2 separate regions of the Homo sapiens genome follow, and region 2 is linked to region 1. The links come from fine-mapping of genetic effects on gene expression. A gene starts in region 1. The other region holds a variant in brackets. All regions are shown on one strand. Distances are from middle to middle. Region 1 holds the start of JAK2 (Janus kinase 2). Region 2 has its middle 43 kb from the start of JAK2.

The links.
Region 2: its variant is fine-mapped to the expression of JAK2 in whole blood (TOPMed, PIP 0.96).

The regions. Positions count from the first base shown.
Region 1 is chr9:4,980,849-4,990,347 of GRCh38, reverse strand. JAK2 (Janus kinase 2) reads right to left here and starts at 5,076. Exons shown (of 25, transcript NM_004972.4): 1 at 4,718-5,076; 2 at 4,326-4,408. RefSeq lists enhancers at 4,274-4,323, 5,124-5,263, 5,192-6,025 and silencers at 4,654-4,983, 5,374-5,453, 5,494-5,543, 6,994-7,123.
Region 2 is chr9:4,937,589-4,947,087 of GRCh38, reverse strand. It overlaps the pseudogene HNRNPA1P41. Among named protein-coding and RNA genes, the nearest start is that of JAK2, 43 kb to the left of the region's middle. The variant C/G (reference allele first, on the strand shown) is at 4,542.

The sequences.
Region 1 (9,499 bases):
TTAATCAAACGGCAGTTTCTTTGTCATTAACTAGCTGAGTAACTTTGGACACATTTTTAAATCTCTCTGGTCTGAGTCCTAATATACAAAACATATAGACTTAGATGTTCTAAGATGTCTTGGAGAGTCAACACTCTTTGATTTCCTCCGTCACTGAAAAGCAAACCTTCAAGGTAAGGTAATCTTTAATCACTCTTCTCCCCTCCATTCTCCCTTCTTATCCAATCCATAATAATGTCTTGTGACATCTCTGCAATCTGACTTATTTCTAAGTCCTCATTACTTCAGGGCTCAATTATTTTCCTACCTCTTTCTACCATTCTCTTTCCAATTCATATGAGACCTAGCACTGGTGCTGCTTTGATTTTCCTAAAATACTTATTTCAGCAAACTCTTTCTCAATTCAAAACTTTTAAAGCTTCTCCATATCTACAGGTCAAAGTACATTCTTCTCATCCTAGCATTTAAAGACATCCATAATCAAATTCCAACTACATTTTTAACACAATTTCTTACTACTCTTTCACACAAATCTTCATTTCAGTCAAGTTATTTATGTACTGCTCTCTGAACATATCATACATATATACATATTTTGCCTTTGCTTACCCCCTCTACCAGTTCCTTCCTATTATGCAAAATCTCTGCTCAACTCAAGTGGTCTTAAATATCTGTAACTTTTATTATTTAGCTTATCTGCCCAATTATACTGTAAGTCCTTAGGGAAAGGAGCCTATTTTATATTTCTTTATTTCTCTTTTGAATACAGCCAAGTACCTTTTACATTGCAAGTATTAACAAATATTTGTTTGGTGACTACAGTTCCTTATCACACAATCAACATGTATTTCTTGAATGCTGCCCATGTGCTCTCCACTGTGTGTTGTGGTTTTTTTTTAATCTAAGGTACTGCTCCTCAAAGAATACACAATCAACTTGAAAAGATATGGCTAACACTAGGGAAATAACTATCAAACAACTAAAGCATGGCATATAATTAAACCATGTGAAAATGTTCTAAGACTAAAGAGCTACAGAAATAGAGGAAAAAAAAGAGGGATGGAGAACATGGGCAAAAATTAAAGGATAGAAGAAGCATAGCTTATTATTAGAAAGTGTGGAAATCAGCTTACAAGCTTAAGGACTAGAGATCCTTAGACAAAAGACTAAATAAATAGGGCAGGGATTGATAATAGACTATCTTAAAAGTCAGGAAAATTTAATAAGTAGAAAATGGTAAGCCACTGAAGGTTTTGGGGCAAGGGAATGCTATAATAAGGAGTATTAGAGTGGAATCTCTATTGAGGATAAACAGAAGGAAGGGACACTGAATTCTCAGAAGTTCAAATGACTTTCAATATTCTAGGCTCAGGAAATGTGTCCTGGGATTCACACAGTAAAGGAGGGAAAGCAGAGATATGAGAAAGAAAGGAAATATGGACATTTTGAATGGGAATAAGAGGTAAATGAAAGAAGTAGTTTAAAGATGATGCCTAATTTAAAGCCTACATGATTAGAAGAAAATTAAGGGGTAGAAAATGGTAACTTTCACTTGGGGCATTCGGAGTTTAAGGAGATGAACAGAAGTAGAAGCAGAAGACCAGTACAGGAAAAACCAGGAAGTGACTAGTACAACAAGTTAGCAATAGGATTAGTTTTAAAATGAAAGAACTGGGCAGAAGTTATAAACATATTACATAGGAGAGGAAATATATTAAGCCATGATCAGCTGGTACTAGCTTTATATCAATAATTTTATCAGAAAAGCAAACTAAAAGCTAAGGCAGAGGTTTCCAAACCCATTCAGGGAGCTCTGAGTCTTAGCAAATTTTTCACGACACCCCCAGGCCAAAAGAAATAGGTTTGAACAACTTACTTAGTAGTTATGTCCTTACAACTTAGTGTAGAGCACTGTAGAACTTATCAAACCTTAGAATCAAATTGGACAATACCACACTGTCATTTCCTGTTCTACATTCATTTTCATGTAGTAGTTGCTTTTTATCGGAGCAACCTCTGAAAATACATCTTTACAAAGACATGACATTGTAGAAACGGGTGTAGGTATCTAATATTGAAACCATGAACCAACTCAAAACACAAGTTCAAGCCTGAGGTGCTCTGGGCACCTTGGCACACAGTTTGGGAAACTGGGAGCTAAGAGGAGGGGTCTAAAAGGGAGTGGGGAAGGGTGGGAAATGTAATGGGAGAAGAGCAAAAGAAAGGTCTTAGCACAGTTAACCACAAGGGGGCAGCACAATAATTGGTAGGGGCAACACAATGGGGGTTTAAGCAGAGACACAAAGTCAAACCTTTCCATACAAAGGCTGTAATACTCCCTCACCAGTTTAAGACCTTGAAGTCCTTTATCTCTTTATACTAGAAAGGAGGAAACACGAGTTACAGGCAGATCACCTTATGCAGTCATTCTGCCCTTCTCTGAATCTCCTTTGCCTCCCAGCCGTGATAGTAGCCAAGACTTTTATGACAGCCAGGCAGTTTACCACTTTGCATGTGTCTTACTCACTTCTCACAACAATCTTATAAGAAAGTGAAGCTAAAAGAGTCGTAAATAATATAACTCTTTTTTTCTTTCTTTTTTTTTTTTTTTTTAGACAGAGTCTTGCTGTGTTGCCCAGCCTGGAGTGCAGTGGTGAGATCTCGGCTCACTGCAACCACCACTTCCCAGGTTCAAGCAATTCTCCTGCCTCACCCTCCCGAGTAGCTGGGATTACAGGTGTGCACCACCACGCCCGGCTAATTTTTGTATTTTTAGTAGAGATGGGGTTTCACCATGTTGGCCAGGCTGGTCTCAAGCTCCTCACCTCAAGTGATCCTCCTTCCTCAGCCTCCCAAAGTGCTGGGATTACAGGCGTGAGCCACCATGACCAGCCGTAAATAATGCAACTCTTAAGTGGCAAGAACACCAGGATTCAAATCCAGATCTCACTCCAAAGCCAATGCACTTTCCTATTCTGCCTCAAAAGCATCCCACCTTTCAGTAATAGCCAGGTGAAAGAGAAACAATGTCATATTCCCTTCCCATATCTGAGACACCTGTCTCAAATCACCAAAGGCACACACACACAAAATTCCCTAATGAGTCCCTAAAACTGCTATAAATTGCAAATACAGGATATTCAGTTAGAGCAAAAACAAGCATGGTGTGCTCTTCTGGCCAGCAAGTACTGCAGCTTTCCTATTCAGGTAAATACATGTACTATTAAGGCAAGTGCTGGATACATCCAGTCTGTACATACGTTACACACCAACAGACAAATGCATGTACAAGCAAATAATTCTCACACTTAAAGTGGTATAAGGTGAGGCGGATGGGGGAAGGGAGGCCAAAAATTGATTATTCATCTTCAAATGTTCTGGGTGTTATATCAAAATACAAGCTGATCATCCCTTATCTGAAAAGCTGCAAAATCTGAAACATTTTGAGCACCAACATGATGCTACAAGGGGAAAATTCCCCGCATAGGTACTTAATACAAACTTTGTTTCATGCACAGACGTATTAAAAATATTGCAAATGACTTAGTGGCTGTGTGAATAAGGTCTATATGAAACAAACGAATTTCGTATTTACACTTGGGTCCCATCCTCAAGATGTCTGATTTTGTATATGCAAACATTCCAAAATTTTTAAAAAAAATCCAAAACACTTTTGGTCCCAAGCATTCTGGAGAAGGGATACAAAATCTTTATTTGCAGTAGCCCAACAACTCACTGTACAAACTTATTATGAAACCAAAAGCAATCATTTCCCTTATTCCCACTTCCAGTTTCCTTCTCCATACTCAGCCGCTCCTACCCTTTCATTCAGAGAAATGGAGTTTCTCCTAACAGATTAGTAATTACTGGAAAACAAACTGGGTAAATTCAACCGACACAGCAAGCTTAGGCAGATAAAACCATGAGGAAACATTCAATGTGGTAGCAGAAACCCCAGCAAGAATAGCTAACGTGTTCTCCCAAAAGCTATCTCTTATTGCTTGGAAATACTCCTCTTTAAAGGATTAAGAATCTCTGGCTGCTTAAGAAGAAAGGGTAATGGACAACGTTTTTCGTTTCTCTGCAAAGTCACGTTATGTGTAAAGCCAACAAAAAAATGTTTCTTAAAGGATCCAAGACGAACAACAAAACACCCCAAAATTACTCTCCCAGATCAACATTAAAAGTTTAGCACTGACATTTTCAGAAGAGTAAGCAACAATGAGCCCTGCCTCTCTTCACACGCTTCCAACCTTCCCTACGCACGCACTCCCAGCTCCAGACACCTTCGCCTTTACTGCAGCGATAAAGGACAGCACACCCACCGTCGCGGGAGGAGGAGGAAGAGCCTCTTTTTCTGCAGAAGAGAAACAGTTCACATCTTGTTCCTGTTGCCTGCTTCTGAAACCTAAAAACAGAAGCAGCAGTTAACTACTACCACATAAATCCAGGGGAAACAAATGCTTTTTCTAGGCTGTTTAAGTGTCTAGAAAATTTTAAAAAGGAATAAGGAGGCGGGAGCGAGGGAATTATAAGACACAAATGGAAGCAAATATCACCAGCAAGACTCGTTCTAGGTGTCGTCTTAAAGAGGAAGATTTTTCTGGCTCAGAAGTTTGCTGCCACTAGCAGGGGGCAGGCGGGACCAAAAGGTAGGAAGGGGGTGGAGAGACAGCTGCTGCCCCCCACCCAGAAGCCAGGCAGAGATAACACCCACCGGCTACACAGATCGGGCGACCAGAGCGCGCCCTCGAGCCCGCAGGGGCGGCTCCTACCCGGCGGGTCAAGGTCTGCGAAGCCCCGGGACGGGCACGGCTCTGAACGACCTCCAGGCTGGGCCCTCGGGGGCCCTCCAGTGTGGGCTCAGCTCCCACTCACATCCCTCGGCAGCGAGGACCAGGCCTCTCCCTGCGCCGCAGCAGCCCTCAGCCCCGACGCGCGCCGCAAGCCCGGGCCGAGGGGCCCGACCGGCCGAGAAGCCGAAGTGGCGACGCGAACACCCAAGCGAGCCGGGCGCCGGCCCAGCCTGTCAGCGCCGAGGGAGGCCGTTAGCGGCGTCCGCTGCTGCCCCCTTCTGCTCCTCTTCCTCTCTCCTTCCTGCAGCCCCACACCACTCCCACTTCGGGCAGCCGGGAAGCCCGTCACAGTTGTCTCCACCCTCTCCGGGGCCACACCGTCTTCTCAACGCCGCGGGCGACACTGGCTTCGCCGCCCTGCTAGCTTCGAACTCAGCCTCCCGGTTGGCCTGCAGTCTCCCCGAATGGCAGGAGACCGGGCCGGATAGAGGCTGGGGGAGAGCCGGACGCGCGTCCTGCAGTGCGCGTGCGCCGCTCGGTGCTGGTCGCGGGACCGGCAGGCGCGGGCCACGCAGGGCAGCTGCCTCTCGGGAAGCCGGCGAGCGCGCGTGGAGATTCCTGGGACGGCCCCTGGGCGTGAGCGCGCAAGGAAGTTAAGGCGGCGGCGCCTCGCGAAACGCTGGTGCCCGGCTGGAGCTAGGCGCCAGCGCTGGGCCCGGCCCTCACTAGATGGGCGGGTGTGTGTGTGGCCGCCGCCCTCCAGGGAAGCGGCCGGGAGTGACTCACCCTGGCTGGCTCCCCAGCGCGCAGCCTGCACTGGAGGAGGCCGGGCTGCCTCCGCGCGGAGACTCCCCTCCCGCACACTTCTCCGCTTTCGGCTTTTCCTTCCACCTCCCGGGTACAGCAGACCCGTCCTTCCCCAGTCCAGGCTGCTAGGCCGAGGGGAAGTGGCGCCGGGGGCCGGGGACAACGCGCTCACACACGCTGTTTCGTGGCAATGCGCCCTCGAGAGCCTGACTCCCATCAGCCACCTTGGCTGGAAAGGGGTGAGGGTGGGATGAAGCGCCCAGCCGCCTGCGGGTTGGCAACAAGGCCTAGCGAATGTTTCTCCTAGAGGAGAAACAACTTTACCGGCGTGGCCTGGTGTAGCCCGGGAGAGGGTGGAGACAACGGCTGTGACGGGCTTCCCGGCTGCCAAAGGGCCTCATTCATTCATTCAAATATTTACTGAGTGTCTACTAGGTGCCGGGCTGTAGGTCCCCAGAGATACCAGGTGAACACGACCCCACACACTCCTTGCCCTACTGGATTGTATTCTGATGGAAGCGACAAAACAACAAACAACGCTTTAAATGCATAATGTGCGGGGTGTGTAATTGCCACTAAGAAAATGCATAGTTTTCTGCTGCCATATACATAATAACAAAGAAAAGGAGTAGAAAGTGAGGAGGGGGTGTGCTATTTTACGGTGGCCAGGAACGATTTCCTAGAATAAGTGACATTTGAGCAGAGATCTGAAGGATGAGAATGAACCAGTCCCATGACTATCTGGGAAAAGAATTTCAGGCAGAGGGACTCCTGAAGGCAAAGACCTTGAGAAGGGAAAGTGTTTGGCAAGTTCAAGGATCAGGAAAGAGGTCACTGTGGCTGGAGGACACGGAAGGAGGGGGCAGTGGTAAGAGGTGAGGCCAAAGAAGTAGCCTGGCACCAGATCGTGTAGGGATTTTTTTCAAGTATTAGCCCTCTTTCTGTCAACCTAAATGAAGTGACGCATTCATAGCTCCTGTTTCCCCATACACAACTGATGCTGCTCTTCAGGTCTGTCTTGCACTTAATGGTTTCTTTAAATAAACCTCACCAAAGCAACTCCTGCATTTCTTCTTACATAAGACCCATTGCAAAAGGTCTTTAAGCAAATGATAGCAGCATAGGAAATTACTTGAATTCACCCTGAATCTTTTAAATAATGAACTAGAGCTGTATAAGAGGGAGGGATTTACAGGAAAATTGCATTCCTACGGCTACTGCTTCATAGGTAATATATGGGCAAAGTTAGTAAGAATTTCTAATTATTAATTGTGACTCAATGGCTTAGAATATCAAGGCCGCAATTACAAACAGTGACTACCAAAAGAGTTCCTTTTTTCCTGCAAACAAAAACTGCTACTGAGGTAAAAGCTAGAACACAGACCCACATAATGAAGAAGAGCTAAAGATGAGCTTAACGTCATGGGTAAATGAAAAGCATCACAACTGTGGAAATGGAAATGTGATATTTTGTGAGGGGAAGAAAATGCTTGTTTTAGAACTCTGAAACAGTATTACTTTCATTATAAGTGATGTTTCTATATTTTGCAGTGATATACTTATGTAACTAGGCATGGTATCTCTTACTGTCCACAGCCTGTTTGCAGGGAGAAGCCATTTGAAATTGGTGAATTGCAGGGAGAAGCCATTTGGAAGTGGTGAATATTGAGGATATTTTTGTGGGGGAGCAGGTTATTTTCTTAATATTAGAGATGTGGGTATGGAAGACAAGGTGGACAAGGGGTATATTATTCATAAGCCTATAGAATTGAGAAATCTTCTGTCTCCCCACATAGAAAGATGAAGCAACTTGCCTCCTGTCATTCAGAAAGTGAAAGCCTCCCTCATCACTAAGACATGATTTTAAGTCAATGCTAACCTGGAATGTTGAGCTTTTTTCACTCTGTATTAACAGAACTTTTGAGCTCTTTATGTGATTCCTGGTAGTGGCATCACTAGAAATTTGCTACTCAAGGCAAACATTTCAGGAAATTTCCCTTATTCTTTGATAATGATGAAAAGAATTCCAAGGAATTTGACCAAGTCTTTCAAAACATTCATACAATATGAAGAAACAAGAAATATGAGCTGTAAGGTAACACATTTAGATTCAAAACTTTGTGGCAAGATCTAATGGGAAAACTTAACAGCTAGTTGTTGACTGTGGGGCTGTGTGTAGTGTCTTGAGGTTTTGTCCTTCCAGTGTTGGCCAGCATGGCAGCAGTGATTCTTGACTGCTATGCCCAAACCTTCCCCCCACCCCAACAAGACTGCCTCAGTAAGTGTGAGATGGCGCATTGGCTTCTATAACTTTTTAACATTTTTAGGTGGTTTGACATAAAGCCACGGTTGAAAATCCATGGCCAAGGGTTTAAGAACTTACGCTTTAAGAGTCCAGACCACCCAGGTTTCTTTCAATCACAGCTTTTGCCAGGAAAGTTTATTTAGATTTTCTAAGCCTCTGTTTCCTCATCAGTATAATGAGGATAATAATCTCCCCTGTAGAGAGATTTTGAAGATTAGGTGAAAAAGTATTTTAAAACCCTTAGCACAGTTATCAAATGTCTATTATATCTGTGGCAGGACCAATTTACAGATATAACCAAGCTGGGAGGTATAAGAAATTTGTTGAATTTTATTAGGAAGATTGAAGTATTTGTCACAGTTTATTGCACTACACAGGACTGTGTGGGCTGGTAGGATAAGGGCTGAGTTGTAATAGAGATAAATGTGAAGATCTCCATTTGAATTTTAAAAAACAGAACTATATCATTAAATGATGAGACTGAAAACATCATTCTTAAGGAGGGACATAAATGTGAGCACAAAAAAAGATGCAGGAAAGTCCTTGGAAAGGGAAACAGGCTCAAACGAAGGGCTGGGGAGAAGTCCAGGAGTTAGTTTGTTTCTTTCCAAAACAGGGAAGATGTACTTTCCTGAAGGCAGAAAGGAATAAAATATGGAAAGAGGCTTATTTATTCCAAATGTAGGATTATAAGCCAAAAGACAAAGGCAAGGGGTATTAATCAAGTAGACAGACAAGCAAGCAATGTTTTTTTTACTACAAATCATCCAGATATTTTAGTACCATTTATTCCAAAATTTGGTTGGCTATGGCAAAGAAATTTTCCAATACCTCCTCGGTACTTCAGCATGTCCTTGTCTCTACATCAGTTCCCTTATCCTTACTTTCAATCACAAAAAGAAAAGGAAAACAAAAAAGATATTGCCAGTGAACAGATCCCTCATTCCCTTGAGATAACTGGATGTATTAAACTTTGGTGCTTGAAAACCAAAACAGTTTTCCCTTTGTAAGCCAAGAATTAATAACCTCTTTCAAGTGAGGATAATTATTTGGCAAAATATGTAAAATGACCATTATAACTATGTGCTACTTTTAAAAAATTTAACTTAAAACTGTTAGACATATAGTTGCCTATTCACGAAAAACATTTTTTGTGTGTGTGAAAGGATTCATGCCAGCATTCACTCTTAAAAACAAAATTTCGGCCAGGCGCAGTGGCTCACACCTGTAATCCCAGCACTTTGGGAGTCCAGCGTGGGTGGATCACAAGGTCAGGAGATCAAGATCTCCTGGCTAACATGGTGAAACCCTGTCTCTACTAAAAATACAAAAAATTAGCCAGGCATGGTGGCATGTGCCTATAGTCCCAGCTACTCAGGAGGCTGCGGCAGGAGATTCACTTGAACCTGGGAGGTGGAGGTTGCAGTGAGCCGAGATCATGCTACTGCACTCCAGCCTGGGCAACAGAGCAAGACTCCCATCTCAAAAAATAAAATAAAATAAAATAAAAAATAAAAATAAATCCCTAGCATAATTGTTAGTTTACAGAGACTCAGAGACTTAATTCCTGAGTCCTAATTTAGACTAAGGA
Region 2 (9,499 bases), 43 kb after region 1:
ATGGATATGTGGGGATTTTCTGGGAAGGAATGTGAGTGAACTTTCTGGGAAGATATAAATATTCTCTATCTTGATAGGAGTTTGGATTATATAAGTGTCTGCATTTGTCAAAATTCACTGAATGGTATACTTAAGATTGTGCATCAAAGCTGGGCATGGTGGCTTATGCCAGTAATTTAAGCTACTTGGGAGGCTAAGGTGAGAGGATAACTTGAGGCCAGGAGTTTGAGACCAGCCTGGGCAAAATTGTGAGACCCTGTCTCTACAAAAAAATTTTAAGAATTAGCTAGGCCTAGTGGCATGCACCTAGAGACACAGCTACTCGGGAGGCTGAGGTGGGAAGATTACTTCAGCCTGGGAAGTTGAGGCTTCAGTGAGCCATGATAGCACCACTGCACTCCAGCCTGGGTGACAGAGGTCTGTCTCCAAAAATAAATAAATAAATAAAATACAGATTGTGCATCTACTATATGTAAAATCTTACCAAGAAAAACTCATATACATGACTCTAAATGATATGCATGCTGAAGTATTGAATGAAGTATGTTGATATCTACAACTTACCTTGAAATGCCTCAAAAAAAAAGATGGATTAATGGATGGACAGAGGTATCAACAAATAGATGGTTGAATAAATGTATAATAAAGCAAATTAATTGCTAATTGTAGAATCTAGATGGTAGTGGCTGAATGTGGTAGCTCACGCCTGTGATCCCAGCACTTTGAGAGGCCAAGGTGGGCAGATGACATGAGGCTAGGAGTTCAAGATCAGCCTGGCCAACATGGTGAAACCCCATCTCTACTAAAAATACAAAAATTAGCCGGATGTGGTGGTGCACAGTGCACATAATCTCAGCTACGTGGGAGGCTAAAGCATGAGAATTGGTTGAACCCAAGAGACAGAGGTTGCAGTGAGCTGAGATCCCCCCATTCCCCATTGCTCTCCAGCCTGTGCAACAGAGGGAAACTCTGTCTCAAAAAAAAAAAAAAAGATGGTGGATATATGCAAATTTGTTGTTTCTGATTATTTCAATTATTCAGTATATTTGATAATGCTTATAATAAAATGGTGGGAAAACTATTTACCAAAACAAAACAAAACAAAACAAAACAAAACAAACCTACCTGCCCGTGGAGGCCACCAAGGAAGCATGGTTAAAGTCTCTCTTCTCCCTGTCAGTCATGTCTAAGTCAAGAGTCTCCTAAAGAGCCCAAACAGCTAAGGAAGCTCTTCATTGGAGGGTTGAGCTTTGAAACAACCAATGAGAGCCTGAGGAGCCATTTTGAGCAATGGGGAACGCTCACGGACTGTGTGGTAATGAGAGATCCAAACACCAAGCGCTCCAGGGCCTGTGGGTTTGTCATGTGTGCCACTGTGGAGGAGGTGGATGCAGCCATGAATGCAAGGCCACACAAGGTAGATGGAAGAGTTGTAGAACCTCACGCCTATAATCCCAGCACTTTGGGGGGCTAAGGCAGGCGGATCACGAGGTCAGGAGATCGAGACCATCCTGGCTAACACGGTGAAACCCGTCTCTACTAAAAATACAAAAACTTAGCCAGATGTGGTGGCAGGCGCCTGTAGTCCCAGCCACACAGGAGGCTGAGGCAGGAGAATGGCATGAACCCGAGAGGCGGAGCTTGCAGTGAGCTGAGATGGCACCACTGCACTCCAGCCTGGGCGACAGAGCAAGACTCCATCTCAAAAAAAAAAAAAAAAAAAAAAAAAAAAAAAAGAGTTGTAGAAGCAAAGAGAGTTGTCTCAAGAGAAAATTCTCAAAGACCAGGTGCCCAGTTAACTGTGAAAAATATATTTGTTGGTGGCATTAAAGAAGACACTGAAGAACATCACCTAAGGGATCATTTTGAACAGTATGGAAAAAATTGAAGTGATTGAAATCATGACTGACCGAGGCATTGGCAAGAAAAGGGGCTTTGCCTTTGTAACGTTTGACAACGGTGACTCCATGGATAAGACTGTCATTCAGAAATAGCATACTTGAATGGCCACAGCTGTGAAGCTAGGAAAGCCCTGTCAAAGCAAGAGTGGTTCTGGAAACTTTGGTGGTGGTCATGGAGGTGGTTTCAGCGGGAATGACAACTTGGGTCATGGAGGAAACTTCCATGGTCGTGGTGGCTTTGGTGGCAGCTGTGGTGGTGGTGAATATGGTGGCTGGGGATGACTACAGTGGATTTGGTAATGATGGAAGCAATTTTGGAGGTGGCGGAAGCTACAGTGATTTTGACAATTACAACAATCAGTCTCCAAATTTTGGACCCCTGAAGGGAGGAAACTTTGGAGGCAGAAGCTCTGTCCCCTGTGGTGGTGGAGGCCAATACTTTGCCAAACCACAAAACCAAGGTGGCTATGGTGGTTCCAGTAGCAGCAGTAGCTATGGCAGTGGCAGAAGATTTTAATTAGGAAACAAAGCTTAGCAGGAGAGGAGAGCCAGAGAAGTGACAGGGAAGCTACAGGTTACAACAGATTTGTGAACTCAGCCAAGCACAGTGGTGGCAGGGCCCAGCTGCTACAAAGCAGACATGTTTTAGACAAATACTCATGTGTGTGGGCAAAAAACTCGAGGACTGTATTTGTGACTAATTGTGTAACAGGTTATTTTAGTTTCTGTTCTGTGGAAAGTGTAAACCATGCCAACAAAGGGTTTTAATGTAGATTTTTTTTTCACCTATGCTGTTGATTGCTAAATATAATAGCCTGATTGGGACGCTGAATAAATGTCTTTTTTTTTTTTAATGTGCTGTGTAAAGTTGTTCTACTCTGAAGCCATCTTGGTAAATTTCCCCTACAGTGTGAAGTTAGAGTTCCTTCAGGGTGATGCCAGGTTCTTTTTGGAATTTATATACAACCTGCTTGGGTGGAGAAACCATTGTCTTCAGAAACCTTGGTGTGGTTGAACTGATAGTTACTGTTGTGACCTGAAGTTCACCATTAAAAGGGATTAGCAAAGCAAAATCATGGAATTATTGGTTATTAAAACGATTGTTGGCATATCCTATGCAATATATCTAAATTGAATAATGGTACCCAATAAAATTATAGATGGGAATGAAGTTTGTGTACCTTCCATTATCATGCATAATCAATAAACGATTTAATTCTCTTGAAAAAAAAAAACCTGAAAGGAAACACACAATTGACTTCAGGTGTTGACACTTTGGAAGATTTTTCAAGTTATTTATAGTGACAGATATTAATGTTATAAAGAAATAAATGCACTTTTTATTTTAAAAACTCTACCATTTCTCTGAAGAAGAAACAAACAAGATTTTAAAAAATCTTATACTAGTCAGTAGAGTATAGCTTTCCAGCTAAGCAATGAAATCATTTTAAATGGTAAACTTTATATTAAAGATATGAAGAAATGAACATGATTGTCCCATAGTTAAATCATTTTACTGCAGATAAATTGCCTGAAGCACATTTTCTTTGATCGTTCATAGGGATTTATATTTTTAAACAGGTTGAAGTTTAGATGTCCTCAAGAGTGTCACAGTCTAATTATATCATAGGTACGAAGTAGTTGTGTGACTGTATTTAGAAAGCATAACCTTTCTGTTAGCGATATCTCTAAAATGCCTGACACTTTACAGAATACTGTGAAATCAAATACAGACTCTGCTGAGATGGTATTGAAACATTTTGCTGTTAGTCCACGGTGAATACTGGCCTTTAGAAAAGCATAAATACTACTTTCTGCATCTACCAAAGAATTAATTAAATCTGTTGCAGTCTTTTTGATCGTAAAAAATGATTGCTACAACTTGCTTAATTATCCTAATTTTTTTTTCTAGTCAAGAAAAAACTCCTGTGGATATAGGAACCTTGCCTTGCTTGATTGCATGCAGACTGCCAGGTAGTGATACTACCGAAAACTTGTGCTTCCATTCCTTAATTAGAGATAATTGCTGGTTGAATGGGCAATTTTCTTTCTCTTTGGAGAAAGGATCTAGATACTGTGCTTCAAACCAATTGTTCTGTTTCAAGTGGAAGTCCTCTAAGCTGGGACATGAAATGCCAAACTCTTATGCTTCAAATGTCTCCATTTATCCATTTAGGCAAAGCTAGATAAATTTTCTGAAATGGAAATTACCTCAGCATCTTTCTCTGATATTGACTAATTCCCACATCTCTTGTATCTATGCAAATTTTAACCTGAATCTTAAAAACAAACATTTTGGAGAAAGGCCCCTACTAATTTAAAAATTAAACAAACAAAATTCCCTAACCAACTTTACTGGAACCCATTACTTGCTTTTTCTTCTGAGCTATCAGCACTTCTTTCCTAGACTTTAAAGCTGTTGTTCCAATGTAAACAAATATATCTAGCTTGAACTCAGACTTAGTTATCCCTTGCTTTTGCTTTCTACACTAAAACAAAGAAATAAAAAATTTTGCTGAGAAGTGTTCTCGTTTTGAAAAATTTAAAGCAGTAACATTTAGCTAAAAGCTTTTGCCTTAAATCAGCTTATTAAAAAAAAAGAAGAAGAAGAAGGAGAAAGAAAGCATATTTTTGTAGGGA[C/G]CTGGAGCATAATAAAGTTTAAAACCACAAGGAACTTCTTTTCTTGAGTCACCTCTTCTTACCAAATAGTGGTTCCTATCAAGTGATTTCCTTTCAGAGTACATTTTACTCCCTACTTACAAACTCCTATAAACAAGTGTGTGTGTGTAACCCAAAGCCAGAAATCCACCTACAGGCCGGGAACAGTGGCTCATGCCTGTAATCCCAGCACTTTGAGAGGCCAAGGCGGGTGGATCACTTGAGGTCAAGAGTTCAAGACCAGCCTGGCCAACATGGTGAAACCCCATCTCTACTAAAAATACAAAAAATAAAAATAAAAAAAATAGTTAGGTGTAGTGGCACACACCTGTAGTCCCAGCTACTAGGGAGGCTGAGGCGCAAGAATTTCTTGAACCCCAGAGGCAGAAGTTGGAGTGAACCAAGATCGCACCACTGCACTCCAGCCTGGGTGACCAAGCGAGACTCGGTCCCCAAGAATAAACAACAACAAAAAAATCCACTTACAACTAGACCAGTTTCTACTTGGCTAAACACCCAGGATAGTCAAAGCTGGACCAGTTTCTACTTGGCTAAACACCCAGGATGTTTAGCTGTCCTTAAAATATATTGATACTGCATATTCTTTAAAAGAAATATATGGTAACAACTATTTTATTAAGTTTTCATTAGTCTAATCGAAAAATAGGATATTTTTCACACATGGAGATAATCCTACCTATTCTGCAAGTCAGTAGGTATTTCTTTCCAATTATTTAAATTAATCTGTTTGTACATTGTCCCTATGGTACATTAGATCATTGCTCTCAATTCTTTACCCCCTCCTTCTGTCAGGTGAACTTCTAATGGGAGTTATTTCCCTCTCTCATTGATGTTGGGCATAATTACATATGTGATTTGGTTTGATCAATTAAATGATAGCACACATGAGCATAGGCCTTAAGTAGTTTGACTTGGCCTCTTTTTTTTTTTTTTTTTTTTTTTTTTTAGACAGGGTCTTACTCTGTCACCCAGACTGGAGTGCAGTGGCACAATCTCGGCTCACTGCAGTCTCTGCCTCTTGGGTTCAAGCAATTCTCCTGACTTGGCCTCTTGCCTTTCATAATCCACCAGGAGAAGAATATGCCTCAGATAGCTAATGGGATTTGGGAACATGTGAAGCAGGCCTGATCCCAACTTGAGGCTTTGATATAAGCCCAGCTGTCCTGCAAAAGAAGCAGAGCATCCCAGATCATCCACAGGCTCATGAACAAGGAAAATAAAGGCTTATTTTTATGAGCCACTGAGTTTTGGAGCTGTTTATTACTCAGCATTGTAACAATAGCTGACTAATATATCCCATATTTCGTGTTCAGTGACATATATATCTGTGAAAATTGATTGATAGAATCATATCCTTATATTAACTCTCAGTCCCGCAATATGCAATGACAAGGAGCTTTGAAGACTCAAATAATCAAGTACAACCCAATGACCAGTGTTTTTTGCTAATATCAATGGGGACCCCAGACAAATAATAAACACTAGATAATATTCCATAATGAAGTTGGAGAAGAAGTAAATAGAGTACAAGAATCAACAAAAATGTAAGAAAATCCTAAAACCGTAAGAGCCTTATAAAAATAGCTGGAGTGGGCAAGAATGTGTGAGTTTAACCAAGCCATCTGCCTTCTGCTCCGCTGGCAAACAATTCAGTTATACAGTACAGCTCTTGATTAAATATAAAAACACTTCTCCCACCCTTTTTCTGTCATAATAATAATTTTGGTGCATTTCTTTGTATACATTGTTTTTTATATACTGCAAGAATTTTTCATGTGGCTAAAAACTACTGAGTCTCAATATTTTTCTGATTCGCTACCATTGACTTACCTAAGATATTTCCACTAGGACAATATAGATTACATATAATGTTTTTTTCATAATCGTTATTTGAAATGGCTGTATAATCTTCCATTGAGTGGATGCACCATAATCTAGTTAAACTATTTCCTGTTGTTAGATTTTAGGCTGTGACTAATTTTTCACTATTATGAATAATTTTCCTGTGAGAAGTGCAAACCGTAGGCATATTTTTTTAATCTCTGGATTATTTCCTTAGTACAAATACCCAGGAGATTCTACTAGGTGAAAGGATGAGAATATTTTAAAATCTCCTGATAGCCAGGTGCAGTGGCTTGCACCTGTCATTCTACTTACTTGGGAGACTGAAGCAAAAGGATCCCTTGAGCTCAGGAGTTCAAGAACAGCTTGGGCGACATAGCAAGACCCTGCCTCTAAAAATTACTAAATAAATAAAACTAAAAGATCTCAATACATATAGCTAAATCAATTTCTAAAAGACGTTTCTAATTCTACTGGTAATGTACTATAGTACTAACAAACATTAAATATTATTATAAATGTTGCTATGCTTTGTAGCCAAATGAATGGAAGGGGTATCTTATCACTTTTAAAATTAAAAGTGAGGTGGAACATTTTTCCATGTTTGTTAACTAGATGATCTCTTCTTCTCAATATCTATTTACTTTATTATACCACGAAGGACTTGAAGAGCTTTCAAGTAGTGTTTGTCAGTAAGAAAACATACTCTTTTTGTTTCTTTTTTATGTAGGTGTTTTGTGTGGGTCACTCCATGGATTCATAGGTGAATCTATTCCCTCAAAATGAATCTATTGGGAACATTCTTTAAAAAAAAACAAACAAACAAAAGTAACAGAGCAATAGCAAGATCTTTCTGAAAAAGAAATTGCTGGCACATTTTACCAGCATTTACCTTGATCCAAATCATTGAGTTTAGAGAGAGATCCAGTCAATTTAGCAAATCAGCCAAAAGCAACAGTATATGACAGATCAAATTCCATTGGAACAAATACCACACAGACTGGGCAATTCCAGGGGCAGATATAAGACAAATGAGGGGAAGTTGAAGGGAGATAAGATTGTTGGCTGATAGAAAGGAATTTCTAACAACTAACTCGAGCCCCAAATAGACAACAAAGGAGCAACAAAGATGCAAAGATGGTCAGGAGGAGTTTGGAGGATTCATGCAGGAGGGTGTGGGAGGCCTTGTGGTGAGTAGACTGGATAGGACCCCTAAAGTCCCTTCCAACTCTATTTTCCTTAGAGTGGCCCTTGGACCTGAACTTCCTGGTCCTGGGAATAGGAGATTGCTTTGTACAGGACAGAAAAAGAGGAAGAACCTGTCCCTCTCTTCTTGAGGGTGGGGCTGACCATAGTCAGAATTTTGAAATAGAGTTTATCTTTGGCATCTTCTCACTTCCCTTTCTGTACTTTTGCTTACCAGCTGCCCAGTATTCCGATGGGGGTGTTAGCCTCTAAGCAGTGCCACTCCTGCATTACTTCTTTCTCTTTAACCACTTCAAAACTCCCATTCTCTTAACACAGCTAACCTCAGCTAGCTGTTGAAAGGAAAGCAATCTGTTTGAACCATTTCACTCTAAAGCATGACCGACTGATAGTATCATGATCTTCCCAAACAGATACGAATTTTCAAAACAAGATGTTTCTAAAGCCAATGGCATCTTTAACAACATGTGGTAAATTAAACCCCACTTAATAACCCTTCTGAAGTTCAAGTTCCAGCTACATTAATTACTGTCCCTCAGTATTGAGGAAATTACTAGGCCATCCTGTGTTTCAATATTCTTATCAGAAAATGAGGAAGAAATACAACTAAACCATATAATTTATATAAGCTGCCTGGCATAATGCTTGACACATGGGTCTTATTGTTAGTTATTATTGTCCCCTTTGCAGTCATCCATGCAGAGGTGTAATCATGTATTTCTTACTCTCATAACGCATATTCCTTGGGCTGGGAGGTGAGTCTCCAAGTCAGAGTCTGGGCAGCTGACATCCTTGTTGTGTAAAAGGAGGATTTCCTCAAGTTCAGCAGCCTCTATTATCCTTTTCTATCACATTATTTCCTGCCATTACATTTTTTTCCATTCTCTTTACTTTGTGTTTTATTTGTTTGTTTGTTTGTTTGTTTGTTTGTTTGATGGTTGAATTAGGAAGTTAAATTTTGATTTGAAAGTTTGGTTAATTTATTCTCCATGTCTCTTCTTTTCTGATATGGACATTGAAAGCTATAGATTTCCCTCTGAACAACATGTTGACCATACCCCACAGATTTTGTAGAGTAATGCTTCTGTGCCCATTCATATTTATGTGATTTATAATTTCCATTTGATTTTGTCCTTAGCCCAAGAGTTATTTCATTATTGATTTGTAATTCATAAACAGTCTTATTATCTCTATATTCTTATAATAAATAAATGTAGCACTTTAGGCGTTAGAGGGCCAGCAAGCATTTGGTGGCTACACAGCCTCTTCTCTTCATCTTTAGAAATGATGGATCTCAAAAATTTCCATTAAGTACAGGTATGCTTTAAATGAAAATATGCTTCATTAAACATATTTTCAAAATAATGCAGTATTGTGCTTTCAGTAAACCACAGCAATAGCTATCCATTTAAATCATATCCTTCAACAACAAACCAACTTTGTTCTGTTAACATGGTGAAAAACGATAAAACCTATAATTAAAATAAAAGTATGCTAAGCCAGAAAAATAAAAATTGTGTGTGTGTGTGTGCACGTGTGTGTGTAAGAGAGAGAGAGAATGGGTGAGAGAGATTTATCTTCAACAATAAGCTAAAATTTGGCAATGTCTTATTAGTGGTTTCAGCCAAGGAAATCTAATTATGTAACTGTTGTTATTTTTATAGCCACATTTGTGAGTTCTCTAATGATTTTAAGATTGCCTTATCTTAATGAGAAAGCAGAACTGACATCCTCCCAAACTGGGCTAGTTGTTTACTTATTTGAAGATTTATCTTTTCCCTACAAGTACTAGAGTCCAAGTTATCAGCACGTTAATGTGACAGTTAAGAGGCCATACTCCACTGTATATTTGGATTGTATGGGGTGACCAG